Linked DNA regions of Homo sapiens: region 2 is linked to region 1. Evidence: fine-mapped expression QTL. Tissue or cell type: whole blood. Region 1 holds a variant in brackets; the other region holds the start of a gene. All regions are shown on one strand. Distances are between the middles of the regions.

Region 1 (8,053 bases):
TAGCTGGGACTACAGGTGCCCACCACCACGCCCGGGTAATTTTTTGTGTTTTTAGTAGAGATGGGGTTTCACCATGTTAGCCAGGATGGTCTTGATCTCCTGACCTCATGATCCGCCCATCTTGGCCTCCCAAAGTGCTGAGATTACAGGTGTGAGCCACCACGCCTGGTCGTCTGGCTCATTTTCTTACTTTTTGTAGTGATGGGGTCTCCCTATGTTGCCCAGGCTGGTCTTGAACTCCTGGGCTCAAGCAGTCCTCCCACCTCGGTCTCCCAAAACACTGGGATTACAGTCCATCAGCCACTGTGCCTGGTGCAGGACGCTTTTAAGACTAAATTATCTTCTTAAGGTTTCACAGGCAGTGTGAATTAAAACTGAAAGGTCATGTGAAGCCTGGCTTGAGGTTATTTTTTCCTTCCCTCCAGGGAGGTTTAATTTTCTTTCTTTCTTTTTTTTTGTTTTTGAGACGGAGTCTCGCTCTGTCGCCCAGGCTTGAGTGCAGTGGCGCGATCTCGGCTCACTGCAAGCTCCGCCTCCCAGGTTCATGCCATTCTCCTGCCTCAGCCTCCCGAGTAGCTGGGACTACAGGCACCTGCCACCACGCCCGGCTAATTTTTTTGTATTTTTAGTAGAGACGGGGTTTCACCGTGTTAGCCAGGATGGTCTCGATCTCCTGACCTCGTGATCCGCCCGTCTCGGCCTCCCAAAGTGCTGGGATTACAGGCGTGAGCCACCGCGCCCGGCTTTTGTTTTTGTTTTTTTTTTTTTGAGACACGGTCTTGGTCTGTTGCCCAGGCTGGAGTGCAGTGGCATGATCTTGGCTCACTGCAACCTCCACCTCCCGGGTTCAAGCGATTTTCCTGCCTCATCCTCCCGAGTAAGTGGGACTACAGGTGCCCACCACCATGCCTGGCTAATTTCTGTATTTTTTCAGTAGAGAATGGGTTTTACCATGTTGGCCAGGCTGGTCTCAAACTCCTGACCTCAAATGATCCACCCGCCTCGGCCTCCCACAGTGCTGGGATTACAGGCGTGAGCCACTGCGCCCAGCCTAATTTTCTTTCATACTTCATTGCTGACATTCCTGACGGGGGTTCCAGTTTAATTGCAGGAACTTCCTGTTGGATTCTCTACCTCAGGTAGATGTTTATCATCTGCTTCTATACCCTGGGGTTCAGGGGTCTACAGAAGCCCTTTAGCATTATTTACCTTGCAGGGTTCCTACTTTCTATTTTTTAAAAATATCTTTATTGATACTTAATTCACATACCATACAAGTCACCTATTTAAAGTTGCAATTTAAATATACTATTAAATATACAATTTAAATGTACTGAAGTATATTACGATTTTATTTATTTATTTATTTGTTTGTTTGTTTGTTTATTGAGATGGAGTCTCGCTCTGTCACCCAGGCTGGAGTGCAGTGGCCAGATCTCGGCTCACTGCAACCTCTGTCTCCTGGGTTCACGCAATTCTCCTACCTCAGCCTTCCAGGTAGCTGGGATTACAGGCACCTGCCACCATGGCCACCTAATTTTTGCATTTTTAGTACAGACGGGGTTTCACCACGTTGGCCAGGCTGGTCTCAAACTCCTGACCTTAGGTGATCCAGCTGCCTCAGCCTCCCAAAGTGCTGGGATTACAGGTGTGAGCCACTGCACCTGGCCATATATTACGATTTAAATATACTATTAAATATACAATTTAAATATACTATTTAAAGTATATTCACAGAGTTGTGCAACCATCACCACATCAATTTTAGAACATTTCATTATCCCAAAAACAAATGAGGTACTCCTTAGCCATGACTCCCCAGCCCTCCCAGCAGCCCTGGCAACCACAAATCTACTTCTTATCTCTATGGATTTGCCTACTGGGATATTTCATGTGAACAGGATCATATAATACATGGTCCTTTGTGGCTGGCCTTTTTCATTTAGCATAATGTTTGCAAGGTTCCTCCATGTTGTAGCATGGATCAGAATGTTGTTCCTCTTTGTTGCCAAATAATATCCCATTGTTTGGCTCCATATTTTGTATATTCACTCTTCAGTTGATGGATAATTGGGTAGTTTCATCCACTCAGCTGTTATAAATAATGCAGCCATTAACATTCTCTCTTTTTTTTTTTAAATGGAATCTTGCTCTCTTGCCCAGGCTGGAGTGCAGTGGCACGATCTCGGCTCACTGCTACCTCTGCCTCTGGGTTCAAGCGATTCTCCTACCTCAGCCTCCTGAGTAGCTGGGATTACAGGCATGTGCCACCACGCCCAGCTAGTTTTGTGGGTTGTTTGTTTTTGAAACTGAATCTTACTCTGTCGCCCAGGCTGGAGTGCTGTGGCACGATCTCAGCTCACTGCAACCTCCGCCTCCCAGGTTTAAGCGATTCTCCTGCCTCAGCCTCCCAAGTAGCTGGGACTACAGGCATGGGCCACCATGCCCAGCTAATTTTTGTATTTTTAGTAGAGGTGGAGTTTCACCATATTGTCCAGGCTGGTCTCAAAACTCCTGACCTCAAGTGATCCGTCTGCCTGGGCCTCCCAAAGCGCTGGGATTACAGGTGTGAGCCACCGCGCCCTGCCACACTCTTATGAACAAGGCTTTGCATGGACACGTTTTCATTTCTCTTGGGTATAGAGCTTGGAGTGGAATTTCTGGGTCATATGAAGCTCTGTGTTTAACCTTTTGAGAAAGTGCCAGAATGTTCTTCGGAGCAGCTGCAACATTTTACATTCCCACCGGCATCCTGTGAGGTTCCCATCCCTCCACATCCTCACCCAAGTTGTTATTATCTTTATTATTATTATTATTATTGTCAATGGAGGGCAGGGGATGCAGTGGCTTATTAGTGCCTTTAAAAATAAGTTTTGCAGTTTACCGTTCTATCCCGCACTGGGTTGTTTTAGTCAAGAAGGTTCTTTAGGCAGCAAAATCACCCAACTGCCAGAAATGCAAGCCCCTGCCTTCCCTTGCTGGCTGGCTGTGGCCTCCTGTCGGACCCCTGCTTTTTCTCTTGCCTTCTTCTAAGCTGTTGTCCACGCAGCACTCGAGCCACCTTTTAGAGTCCTAATGCAGTCACATGCCTCCTCGCTGCAAGCTGTGGGAGGGTTCTTACCCTTTGCTTCAGTCCACACGCCCTAGTCCCTGGCCGGCTCCTGGGAGCTCTGCGGCCTCCCTGGGTCTCCGTGTTTCCTAGAGCCTCCGTAAGTGCTCCCTGTCCGCAGATGCGTGGGGCCCTTCCTCACCTCTGCTCTGGGGTGCCCTCCGCCTGGCTTCTGCTTCTCAGCAGCTTCCCAGGGCAGCCCCTTCGGGTCTCAGCGCATAGGTCCCCTACTCTGATCTACTCCTGCTTGCTTTTTTTTGCAGTTGCTCTGCTCGCTAACCTAACGGACTTGCTCAGACTTAAGCCTCTAGTTTCCAAATGCAGGCCGTGAGGGCATGGACCGAGCCTGGCCCAGCCTGCCCATCACCCTGCATGTTCCAGGTGCTCAATAATATTTGTTGAATGAATGAATGCGTGCACAGGGACGTGCTGAGGAGGCTTGGGGGCCAATTGGCTCTGCCCCGCCCTGCCTCTGATCCCCGCCTCCTCACCTGCCCGCAGCCACCTTCTGGGTGAACCCTCAGTTCAAGATCCGGCTGGATGAGACGGATGACCCGGACGACTACGGGGACCGCGAGTCAGGCTGCAGCTTCGTGCTCGCCCTTATGCAGAAGCACCGTCGCCGCGAGCGCCGCTTCGGCCGCGACATGGAGACTATTGGCTTCGCGGTCTACGAGGTCAGGAGGGTGGATCACCGGTGG[A/T]TCTCACTGAGCAGGCAGAGGACCTGGCGCCCCCGACCCGCAGTGCAGGCGGGCTTCCACCAGGGGGCGCCAGGGACCATGCCCTTCCCCACAAATTCCCCTCCACTCCCCCCACCATCCTGAGGGCTGGGAAATCTCAGCCTCCAGGAGGCACCTGCTGAGGCCCTCTGGCCGAAAGAGAGGAAGGGGGTTGGCTCAGGGAAGGGAGATTCTGGGATTCACCTCACGCTTAGAGGGCGGCCTGCTGCTCTTGGAGGAGGGAGCTGGCTCAGCTGATGCCTGGGAGTACTGAGCCCTCCGTCTTGGAAGCTGTGAGCAGAAGCTGGCAGGGGAAAGATAGGGGATAGGGAGGGCCTGTCGGCCAAGGTGAGGCTGTGCCAGTCGCTCTGGGATTAGAACTCCTTGCTCTTGCCCTGTATCTGCCCTGCTTCACACACTGCCCTCAAGACAGGGAGAGAAACTTCTGGACCTCCCTGGTCGCAGTCTTGGCCCACACCCAAACCCCCTGGCAGCAGCCTGCGGTGGCCCTTTCCTGTCCCTGGGCTTTGGAACATTGCAGTTGGCCACCCCGGGGGCTGGCCTGGAGCCTCTGACTCAGAATGGAGTCCTAGGGCAAGCATTCCCAGGACCAAGAGGACCCTGCCTGAGCCCTCCCTCCTGGGGCCCTGCTGTGGTGCAGGGACCAGATCTGGGTCCCCAGGGCCCTGCCTTCTGCCTCCTTATCCCATCAGTCCCGTCTAAGAACTCAAGACCTCTGCCCAGCATGCACTGTGACCCCGCCCTGGGACAAACACACATCTCTGACTTCCCCTGTCTCTCTATTGCAGGTCCCTCCGGAGGTAGGTGTGGCACCATGACCCACCTGCAGTCACACACCCCTGATGGTGCCAGAGGGGAGCAACCCAGTGGCAAACCCACCCTGGCCTGGAGAGCTAAGAAGTCACCTTGTTTCACTGCTTGAAAAATGCTTCTCCCCACCTGTTCAGTGGGCAGAGCAAACATTGCTCTCCTGAGGGTCAGCACAGGTAGTCAGTGAGGGAGCTGGATTTGAGCCCTGGTCCTCAGAGCCCCTGTCTGACATGTACACATGAGGCTTTTCCTGCCTTGCCATCTACACCAAGTAAGTGCCAACTAGGGCGGTCCAGCAATGTCAGGAGCAGGGCATTAGACAGGCTGAGAGTTCTGTACCCTTGAGCAGTTGCTTAAGCTCCGAGCCTGTGTTTGTGTCTGTAAAATGGGTGTAACAGCAGAACAGCAAATGAGGTGCCGAGTACCCTGCAGTACCTGACCTGGGGAAAGCTCCCAGTGATAATAATGACAGTGTTATTGAAACACATGCCTAATCTGCAATCCGGTGCTCCTCTCCTCTACCCTCTGCAGTGAGTAGGGTTGTTACATTTTACAGATGAGGAAACTGAGGCAAAATGTCTTGTTAGGGTCACACAGGCTGTGAGTGAGCCATGCCCCAGCTCTCCAGCCCCTTGGCCAGGACAAGGAGCCTGGAGTCTGGGTCTGGGGGTGGCCCCTGAGGGTGGGCTGAGTGGGCAGCTGCAGCCCTGCTCCCTCCTCCCTCCCACCAGCTGGTGGGCCAGCCGGCCGTACACTTGAAGCGTGACTTCTTCCTGGCCAATGCGTCTCGGGCGCGCTCAGAGCAGTTCATCAACCTGCGAGAGGTCAGCACCCGCTTCCGCCTGCCACCCGGGGAGTATGTGGTGGTGCCCTCCACCTTCGAGCCCAACAAGGAGGGCGACTTCGTGCTGCGCTTCTTCTCAGAGAAGAGTGCTGGGACTGTGTGAGTCATGGACTGGCCCCTGCCACTCTCCCCTCTCCCAGCCTCCCCTCTCAGGCCCTCTGCTGTCCCCCTCTGACTGGCTCCTTTCCTCCCCACTCTCTGCAGGGAGCTGGATGACCAGATCCAGGCCAATCTCCCCGATGAGGTGCGTGGTCCCACCCCACCAGGCCCCGTCCTCCTCTCTTCCTCACCCCTGGGTGTGTGATGGGGACCCAGGTGTCCTGTCCCCTGAGTTCCTGCTAACAGGGAAGATCCCCTCCTGGTGGAAGCCATAGGAGTAGTGCTAATCCCTCATCCGCCCAGCACTTTACAGTTTGCAGAGGACCTGTGATACTAATGGCACAGGCCCTGAGCTCTCACCCGGTGGCGGGTTTGTGCTGAGCACTTCACCTGTGTTACCTCATTTCCTCCCCACATCAACCCTGTCCGGGTCTTGTTACCATACCTCCTCTGAATGGGAAATTCAGGTTCACAGAGGTTAGGGAACTTGCCTGAGGCCATACAGTAGGGATCCAAACTCTTGCCTTTTTTTTTTTTTTTTTTTTGAGAGAGTCTCACTCTGTCACCCAGGCTGGAGTGCAATGGCGTGATCTCGGCTCACTGCAACCTCCGTCTCCTGGGTTCAGGTGATTCTCCTGCCTCAGCCTCCTGAGTAGCTGGGATTACAGGCGCACGTTACCACACCTGGCTAATTTTTGTATTTTTAGTAGAGACGGGGTTTTGCCATTTTGGTCAGGCTGGTTTCAAACTCCTGACTTCAAGTGATCCACCCACCTCGGCCTCACAAAGTGCTAGGATTACAGGTGTGAGCCACCGCACCTGGCCCAAACTCTTGCCTTTTACTCACTGAGCTGAACAGCATCCCCTTCATTTAGGTCACATGAGTGCTGGATATGGGGCGGGGCAGGGCAGGGCAGGAACGAGATTCCCTTTTCAGATTAGAAAAGTGAGACTCAAGCCGGGCTCAGTGGCTCACGCCTGTAATCCTAGCACTTTGGGAGGTTGAGGCGGGCGGATAACCTGAGGTCGGGAGTTTGAGACCAGCCTGGCCAACATGGCAAAACCCCGTCTCTACTAAAAATACAAAAATTAGCCGGGCATGGTGGTGGGCACCTTTAATCCCAGCTACTCAGGAGGCTGAGGCAGGGAGAATGGCTTGAGCCCGGGAGGCGGAGGTTGCAGTGAGCTGAGATCACGCCACTGTACTCCAGCCTGGGTGACAGAGTGAAACTCCATCTCAAAAAGAAAAGAAAAGAAAAGTGAGGCTCAGAGAAGCGAAGTGACTTGTAGCAGATATGTGACCTCAGCCCTCCCTCCAGCTGCCTCCACACGGGCAGGGCCGGGGCCTCTCTTACCTGCTTTCTCCCCTTCTCGGTCCAGCAAGTGCTCTCAGAAGAGGAGATTGACGAGAACTTCAAGGCCCTCTTCAGGCAGCTGGCAGGGGAGGTAGGTTGGGGCATGGCAGGTTGGGAGGGGCCTGTGAGGGGCAGCCCTCTCCTGGGGCAGGTGCCACCTCCTCTCTCTCCCCAGGACATGGAGATCAGCGTGAAGGAGTTGCGGACAATCCTCAATAGGATCATCAGCAAACGTGAGTCCCCGCGGGGCTGTCCCACCACCCCACCATTTCTTCCACATCAGAATCCAGGCTCCTGCTCACACATTGAGCTGAACCTCATCCCTTGGTCTGCATGAGTCGGGGAATCCTCCAGTTTTTCTGAGCCCAGTTCCCTGCCATTTCCATCCCATACTCCTCCTCCTGACCTGCCATCCTGATAATCCCTGTGCTCGGGTGCTGTGCCTTTGTGGGATTAGCAGCGCAGCCTGGCCAGGCACAGTGGCTCACACCTGTAGTCCCAACACTCTGGGAGGCCGAGGCAGGAGTCGCTTCAGCCCAGGAGTTCAACACCAGCCTGGACAATATGGAGAGACCCTGTCTCTGCAAAAAAGTACAAAAATTAGCTGGGCGTGGTGGCATGCACCTATAGTCCCAGCTACTCAGGAGGCTGAGTTGGGAGGATGGCTTGAGACCAGGGAGGTTAAGGCTGCAGTGAGCTGTGATCACATCAGTGCACTCCAGCCTGGGCAACAGAGCAAGACCCTGTCTCAAAAAAAAAAGCAGGAGCAGCACCTTAGTGCCAAAGAAAAGTCTACCTTTCCTCCCAGAGCCTCCTGGGCCAGGCTGAGTGGCTTGGGGAACACCACGTGACTGGCTTCACTCCCCAGGGCAGACAACTGCTGGCCTCTCATCCCCTCCCCTCCCCTTTGCTGCCACTGACCTCCATCCACACGGTTTCCTTAAGCAGAGCTTTTCTCCTCCTCTTCTCTGCTAGTGAAGCACTGCTTACCCTCCTAGCCTACAGCAAGCCCTGCCCTGCCCCATCTTTCTACCCAATTTCTCGCTCTTCTGTTTCACACTCATTTCTTTTTACTTTGGACTAATTGTGGCTGTTG
Region 2 (8,053 bases), 35 kb before region 1:
CGCAGCGCACGACGGCGTGCGGGGATATGGTCGCTTTCTTTTTATTTACATTTATCTTGAAGTTTGGACCTTCTCTGCTTTCAAGTTATGCCGACGCTGTGGTTTTGGCAGCGTTTTATTTTTCCTTTCTTGTTGTCTGGGGCTGTGTGGACAGCAAAAGTTGGCGGATGGGGACCCAGGCAGCCCCTTGGGCCTCAGGACCCGGAAGTCCCCCTGGCTGGCTTGTGACTTTTTAAGATGGAGTTCAGTTCATCAGCGTGACAGCTTTTCTTATTTTCTAACACGCGCGTTTGAGGTCATAAATTCCTCTCTAAGAATTACTAGTTGTGTCCTCCAACTTTGACAGACAATATTTTCTTTCTTTCTTTTTCTTTTTCTTTTTCTTTTTTTTTTTTTTTTTTTTTTTTTTTTTTTTTTTTGAGACGGAGTCTTGCTCTGTTACCCAGGCTGGAGCAGTGGCGCGACCTCCGCTCACTGCAACCTCCGCCTCCCGGGTTCACGCCATTCTCTTGCCTCACCCACCTGAGTAGTTGGGACTACAGGCGCCCGCCACCACGCCCGGCTTTTTGTATTTTCAGTAGAAACGGGGTTTCACTATGTTGGCCAGACTGGTCGCTAACTCCTGACCTTGTGATCCGCCTGCTTCGGCCTCCCAAAGTGCTGGGATTATCGGCGTGAGCCACCTCGCCCGGGTACATTTGATTAATTTTTAGGAAGATGTTCTGTGCGTGCTTTCCTGCCTTTGTTGGGTGCAGTGCCAGCTTATTCGTCCACTAGGTCAAATTTCTTCATCATATTCTTCATATCTTTTACTGCTTTGCTAACTTTTTTGCCTTGCATGTGCCATCATATCTACAATTATGATTGTGATTTGTTTTTCCGTGTGGTTCTGTTGATTTTACACACACACACACACAGACACACACACATGCGGTTTCTTGCTTATTGACTTTATTTTTAGGAGTAAACAAATTACTATATATTTTTTTCTTTACCTGGATTCTGGTTAGGTAATTATACACTTTTTTTTCTTCCTTCCTTCCCTCCCTCCCTTCTTTCTTTCTTCTCCTTCCTTTTTCCTTTTATTTTTCTCTTCCTGCCTCTTTCCTTTCCTTTATTTTCCCTCCCCTCCTTCCCCTCCTCTTCTTACCGACAGGATCTCCCTATGTTGCCCAGACCAGCACTACAGGTGCACACCACCACATCCGGCTGTATATTTTTAAAATCACTACATAAATTCTCTTTCTCCCTAGTTATGCTTTTTGTCCAAAGTTGTGTTTTTTTGTTTGTTTTTTGTTTTTTTTTTTTTTTGAGACAAGTTCTCACTCTGTCACCCAGGCTGGAGTGCAGTGGTACAATCTTGGCTCACCAAAACCTCTGCCTTCTAGGCTCAAGCGATTCTCCTGCCACAGCCTCCCAAGTAGCTGGGATTACAGGCATTCGCCACTACCACCCACCTAATTTTTGTATTTTTAGTAGAAATGGAATTTCACCATGTTGGCCAGGCTGGTCTTGAACTCCTGACCTCAAATGATCTACCTGCCTCGGCCTCCCAACGTGCTGGGATTACAGGCATAAGCCACCGCGCCCGGCCTAAAGTTGTTTTAATATATTAGTGTAGTTATCCCAGCTTTCTTTTAGTAATTGCATATTATTTTTTCTATCTTTATATTTTGAAATTTTTAATATTCTTATTTATTTATTTATTCATGTTTTAGAGACAGGGTCTTGCTGTGTCACCCAGGCTGGGTAGAATGGCATGATAATAGCTCACTGCAGCCTTGAACTCCTGGGCTCAAGTGATCCTCCCACCTCAGCCTCTTGAGTAGATAGGACTGCAGTCACGTGCCACCATGCCAGGCTAGTTTATTTTTGGTAGAGATGGGGCCTTGATGTATTGCCCAGGTTAGTCTCTAACTCCTGAACTCAAATGATCCTCCTGTCTCGGCCTCCAAAAAGTGCTGAGATTATAGGCGTGAGCCAATGGACCTGGCCATATATATATTTTTTGAGCTGGTAGTATGTTATTATGTTTTATGTGTATTCTTTTATATCCTTTTACGTGTATCCTTTATAGCATGCAATATTAATATATGATTTTACAAATTATATATACATTTACATGAATATAAATTTTATAAATAGTATATTAGTTAGCATAGAATAAATTTTGCTGTGATAATTGTAGCAGGCAGAATAATGGACTCCCAAAGATGGCTACATTTCACTTCCCAGACCTGAGAATATGTTATCTCACATGGCAAAAAAGACTTTGCAGATGGTTAAGGATCTTTTTTTGAGACCAAGTCTTGCTCTGTTGCCCAGACTGGAGTGCAATGGCATGATCTCAGCTCACTGCAACCTCCACCCCCAGGGCTCAAGCAATTCTCCTGCCTCAGCCTCCCGAGTAGTTAGGATTACAGGCATGCACCACCATGCCCCGCTAATTTTTGTATTTTTAGTAGAGGAGGGGTTTTGCCATGTTTACCAGGCTGGTCTTGAACTCCTGACCTCAGGTGATCTGCTCTCCTCTGCCTCCCACAATGCTGGGATTACAGGGGTAAGCCACCTCTCCCAGCCAAGTTAAGGATCTTGAGATGGGGAGATTATCTGGGCAGATTGAAGAGCCCAGTGAATCATGGGATTCTGAAAAGTGAAAGAGAAAGGCTGGGCATGGTGGCTCATGCCTGTAATCCCAGCATTCTGGGAGGCCAAGGCGGGTGGATCATGAGGTCAGGAGAACAAAACAAAACAAAAAAATTGCCAGGCATGGCGGCACATGCCTGTAGTCCCAGCTACTCGGGAGGCTGAGGCAGGAGAATTGCTTGAGCCCTGGAGGTGGAAGTTGCAGGGAGCCGGGATTGGGCCACTGCACTCCGGCCTGGGCAACACAGCGAGACTCCGTCTCAAAAAAAAAAAAAAAAAAAGTAAAAACAAATATTCTCCCCAGTGTGGGAGATCGGTGTCAGATCTCCAGGGGTGGCACTGAAGGAAATCAGCCTGAAGGCCCTCCCAAAGTTAAAGTGACTAGCCCACTCCCAGGCTTCTTTTTGGTACACCTTCCTGATCTCTAACCTTAATTACTGGGGGAGGAGGAGAACAGTTGAAAACACAGCTGGTCTAGGAGATTCATTCGGTTTCATGGAACACCTTCTCTGTGCAGGCAGCGTCCAGGAACAGCTGTAGACCACACAGCCAGGCTACCCAGCGTGTGGGCCCAGCAGCCAGGCTGGAACTCTATCTCTACTTACCAGCTGAGTGGCTGGCAGGAAGTTACTCAGCCTGTCGGTCAGCAACCCAAACTCTGTGTGTTAGTTGTTTGTTCGCTGACAAAATGAGGCTTCTCATCATTCTCATCAACTTCACGGGCTTGCTGTGAGGAACACGTGAGCTGATTCCATCACAGACTCCTCAGTAGGCAGCAGTAGGTGTTTAGTGAACGGGCTATGGATGCTGCCCCACTCACTACTTCCTTTCTAGGGGAGGCCGACTTCAAATGCGTGCACACACACAAACAGGATGGCCTGATGCAGACCAGCTGGTCTAGAAAGGCCTTCACGGCCTCAGGGAGCCTGGGAGGCGGCCTGGGGGAGACCATGAAACAGCAGATACACCAGAGACCAGAGATCAGAGAGAAAACAAAGGACCCAGAGATCCACAGACATCCAGACACCAGAGGCAACAAGAAACTGAGAGACTCAGAGGCCCACTGAGACCCAGGCAGCTTGTTCTGTGTTACGAGGGGAAAAATAAAATAAGAAACAAAAGAGAGACTCGGGGGGCCTCAGTGAAACCTAGAGACTCAAGGAGGCCAGGAGATTCAGAGACACCCATAGAGAGCCAGAGACCCTGCCCTAGCAAGGCACAATCAATGAAAAAAAACTCGCCCACCAGGCCCTCGCAGTCCGGGTCTCATATCCCGGCTCAGCACCTTGGCGCTGCATTTGTCAAGAGGGGAACAGGGATCCTAGCTCCCTGCCTGTCCTATGGGGCCTTAGGCCCTGGGGTCCAGCTGGCCTGCCTTCACCCCTCTTGTAGTTGATGAAGCTTTGGAGAGGCTTTCAAACCCTGGGGAGCCACAGCTGGGTGCCGACTGGACTCACTGGCAGAGAGGCAGGCGGTGAAGGCCAAGCCTCGCCCCCCAGGAAGGCCCTGATTGGTGGACGGGCTGCTTTGGGCAGGGCCGCCCTCAGGCTATATAAGCGCACTCGCGGCGGCGTTGGTGTTATGCTCTGGGCCATTCCTGAGCTCGGGTAAGGCTCGCTGCAGGAGGAGGCTGGGTTGCTTGCGGGCGCCTAGATGGAGGGGCCCAGATTGGCCCTGGGGTGGTCGACCGCACGTTCTCCTCGGCCCCGTGGTTGGCTTCTCTCTCTCAGGGATGAGGGTGGGTTTAGGACGGGAGCTTGAAATGTTTGAAGTGGCCCCATCAACTTGCTCTAAATCCAGGTATTTTTCTAATTTCATTCCTCCCTGAGGGCCTCAGTTTCCCCTCGGTGTAAGGGATCAGTGGCCCTTTCAACTCTGCTTTGGTGAGGGGTCGGGGGTGGTTGTGAGTTGGGGCCTAGAGGAGCAGTTAAACTCTTGGGTTTTTTTTTTCTTTTTTTTTGGCCAGGCGCAGTGGCTCACGCCTGCAATCCCAGCACTTTGGGAGGTCAGGAGTGTGAGACCAGCCTGGCCAACACGGTGAAACCCTGTCTCTACCAAAAAAATACAAAAAAAATTAGCCGGGCGTGGTGGCATGGCGCATGCCTGTAATCCCAGCTACTCGGGAGGCTCAGGCTGGAGAATCAGTTGAACCCGGGAGGCGGAGGTTGCAGTGAGCCGAGATCGCGCCACTGCACTCCAGTCTGGGCGACAGAGAGAGACTGTGTCTCAAAACAAACAAACAAAAACCAAAAAACCTCTTGGGGTTTTGGAGACCAAGGGCTTCACTTTTAACCGGCTGTTAGGCCTCAGCTTCAGTTTCCTCGTTTGACGACCGGTCTGAGTTAAACTTACCTCCTTACCAGGATGGAATAAGATAAGGCCCTTAAGCACAGCCCCAGGCACTTAGGAAGCCCTCAGCGGTGCTTGTTGCTGCTGTTACTCTGGCCTGTCCTGGGGTGCCAGGAGGAGGGTGAGGGTGCCACACCCTCACCTATAGCAACTCTTTGCTTCTTTTCTGGCCTCCCCACTCTTGTTGCATCCCGGCTGCCTTCTGTTCTGAGCCCCCAAGTCTCTGCACCCACCCCTCCACCGTCCTGGCCCCTGTCACCACCCTCTTGATTTGTGAGCATCACGGGGGTACATGCTAAGTCCTGAGCCTCCTTTCTCTACAGGTCACCCTGCCCCATCTCCATCTCCTATGAGATGAGTGACTCCCAAGACCCCACCACTTCCCCTGTAGTTACCACCCAGGTAGAGCTGGGGGGCTGCAGCCGGCAAGGTGGGGGCAATGGGTTCCTCCGTTTTCGCCAGCACCAGGAGGTCCAGGCCTTCCTCAGCCTTCTGGGTGAGTTTGGAGGGCTGGCACGGGAGGGGCCGTGAGGTCAAGTGTGAAAGCAGATGTGAAGTGTGGGGTCTCACCTGCCTGTACAGACATCTGAGACCTCTGACCCTCTCCCTCTCAGGTATCCCAGCTTAGGCAGGTGGGAGGGGTGTCCTCTCAGAAACTGGATTCAGGGCCAGGCACCGTGAGTCATACCTATAATCCCAACATTTTGGGAGGCTGAAATGGGAGTATCACTTCAGGCCAGGAGTTCAAGACCAGCCTGGTCAACATAGTGAGACTCCATTTCTATTTATATTAAGAAAGAGAGAGAGAAAGAGAAAAAGGGAGAAAAAGAGAAAGAGAGAGAGGGTTCAGTGGTGGCTTGGGCTTTGGAGCTTCTGATGCCACTCTTCTCCATGGAGGTGGTGGTAACCTGCGTCCTGTCATGTCTTCTCTACCCTCAGAGGACAGTTTTGTCCAGGAATTCCTCTCCAAAGACCCCTGCTTCCAGATTTCAGATAAGGTGAGGGAGTACAGGCTGGGGGTCTCTTGAGGGTCAGGTTGAGTTGGTGGGAATTGAGTGCCCTGGTCTGGTAGGGAGAGCCACTCACCTTCCATCCTTACCCCCTCATCTTTGCACACCACTTCCCACCATTTTACTGACTTTCTTTCCCTGCAGCAAAACCTCCCTGGGTGCAAATGAACCTGGGTGCAAGCCCCTCCTCCTCAGAGAATAACTAACCCCCCACCCCGATCTGTCTCTGCAGTATCTCCTGGCCATGGTGCTGGTCTACTTCCAGCGCGCCCACCTGAAGCTCAGCGAGTATACCCACAGCAGCCTGTTCTTGGCCCTGTGAGTGGTGGGGGCAGGCAGTGGAGGCATTTGCTGGAGGTGTCAGATGGGACAGGGCAGATGTGTGGCCTCTGCTCCCTGACCTTGTGCCTCTGTGGCTAGGTACCTTGCAAACGACATGGAGGAGGACCTGGAGGGCCCCAAATGTGAGATTTTTCCATGGGCCCTGGGAAAAGATTGGTGTTTACGAGTGGGGAAATTCCTGCACCAGAGGGATAAGCTTTGGGCACGGATGGGTTTCCGGGCTGTTGTGAGCCGCCAGTGCTGTGAGGAGGTGAGGCTGGGAGGCAACCTGGGGTGTGGGGAAGGCTGGGGTTCCCACCCCATTTACTGTCCACTCTGCTCCTCCCAGGTCATGGCAAAGGAGCCATTCCACTGGGCTTGGACTCGGGACCGGCGCCCCCACCATGGTGGGGTTCAGAGGGTCTGTCCACAGGTCCCTGTTCGCCTTCCCCGGGGCCCTGGCCTCTCGCCGCCCCACTGTTCCCCCTGTGGTTTGCCCCAGCACTGCAGCAGCCACTTGCTTAAGCCTGTGTCATCCAAGTGCCCTTCTCTGACCTCTGAATGTCATCGCCCTCCCTCCCAAAATTATCTCTCAAGGGTCAAAAACGCCTGGGGTGGGGACTTTCTCATCGTCTTGCCTCCCCAGATGCAACTGGAACCAGGCACCTACTCCCTCCGCAGTGAGTGCAGGATGGGACAGGAGCTGGGGGCTGGTGTGGGAGCTTGGGAGGCAGGAGTGAGGACCAACAATATGAGAGAGAGGGCCATGGGCCTGGGGTCGACGTGCTGCCCCTCCCGTGTGAGCTTGGCAGGTTTCTTCTCTGAGCCTCACTCTTTCCTCTCCCCAGTCTTCCCAAAGCCTCCGGCACGCCCTGGGCACTGAAGCTCTGCAGGGTGAAGAACAGCACGCCTGCTGGCCCACTGACTGACACACCATTGGCTGTGCTCCCACCCCTGCCCCTTCCTCCCAGCCTGCAGCTTGTGCCCACTCTGGTGCCAGTCCCCTCTAATAAATTCATGTCCACAGGACACCAACTGTGCTTAGGTCCTGGCCTGGTTCCTTGACCCAAGGTTGGGGTGGGGAGGGGGTATCTACCAGGGTTACAACATGTGAGCACAGGCTCTGTAACAGCTTGGCCCCTTCCCATTGGTGGCCAGTTATTCTGAGCCTCAGTTTCATCTCTGTGCTATCCATGCCTATGGATGATGAGATCTACACAGTCTAGATGGGATTAAATGAGATGAGGTATCTGCAGCCCTTAGAAGAGGGCCAGGGAGCCGAACGTGGTGGCTCACACCTGTAATCCCAGCACTTTGGGAGGCTGAGCCGGGTGGATCACTTGAGGTCAGGAGTTCAAAAACAGCCTGGCCAACATGGTGAAACCCCTTTGCTACTAAAAATACAGAAACTAGCCAGGCATGGTGGCAGGTGCCTATAATCCCAGCTACTCGGGACGCCAAGGTGGGAGAATTGCTTGAACTGTGGAGGCGGAGGTTACAGCGAGTTGAGATCATGCCACTGCACTCCAGCCTGGACGACAGAGTGAGACTCTGTCTCAAAAAAAAAAAAAAAAAAGGCCAGGAACATATTGGGAAACAAAACTTGAATGGAAGACAGCTCTTTATTTAGTCTAGAAATGCCTTCAGGGCCAGGTTTACTTAGGAATAAGACTTGATCCCTTCCTTGAGCTACAGTCAAATATAATATTGTAATTATAATAAACAAC

The links. PIP is the estimated chance that this variant, and not a neighbour inherited with it, causes the effect.
Region 2: SPDYC starts here. The variant in region 1 is fine-mapped to the expression of SPDYC in whole blood (INTERVAL, PIP above 0.99).

What each region holds. Positions count from the first base shown.
Region 1 is chr11:65,201,073-65,209,125 of GRCh38, forward strand. It overlaps CAPN1 (calpain 1), which reads left to right. Exons shown (of 22, transcript NM_005186.4): 11 at 3,611-3,786; 12 at 4,638-4,649; 13 at 5,391-5,602; 14 at 5,708-5,747; 15 at 6,983-7,048; 16 at 7,133-7,190. Among named protein-coding and RNA genes, the nearest start is that of CAPN1, 23 kb to the left of the region's middle. RefSeq lists enhancers at 2,889-3,876, 3,918-4,107. The variant A/T (reference allele first, on the strand shown) is at 3,811.
Region 2 is chr11:65,166,009-65,174,061 of GRCh38, forward strand. It overlaps SPDYC (speedy/RINGO cell cycle regulator family member C), which reads left to right and starts at 4,225. Exons shown (of 7, transcript NM_001008778.3): 1 at 4,225-4,253; 2 at 5,319-5,491; 3 at 5,935-5,993; 4 at 6,238-6,323; 5 at 6,426-6,597; 6 at 6,676-7,006; 7 at 7,175-7,366. The coding sequence starts at 5,350. The coding sequence ends at 7,209.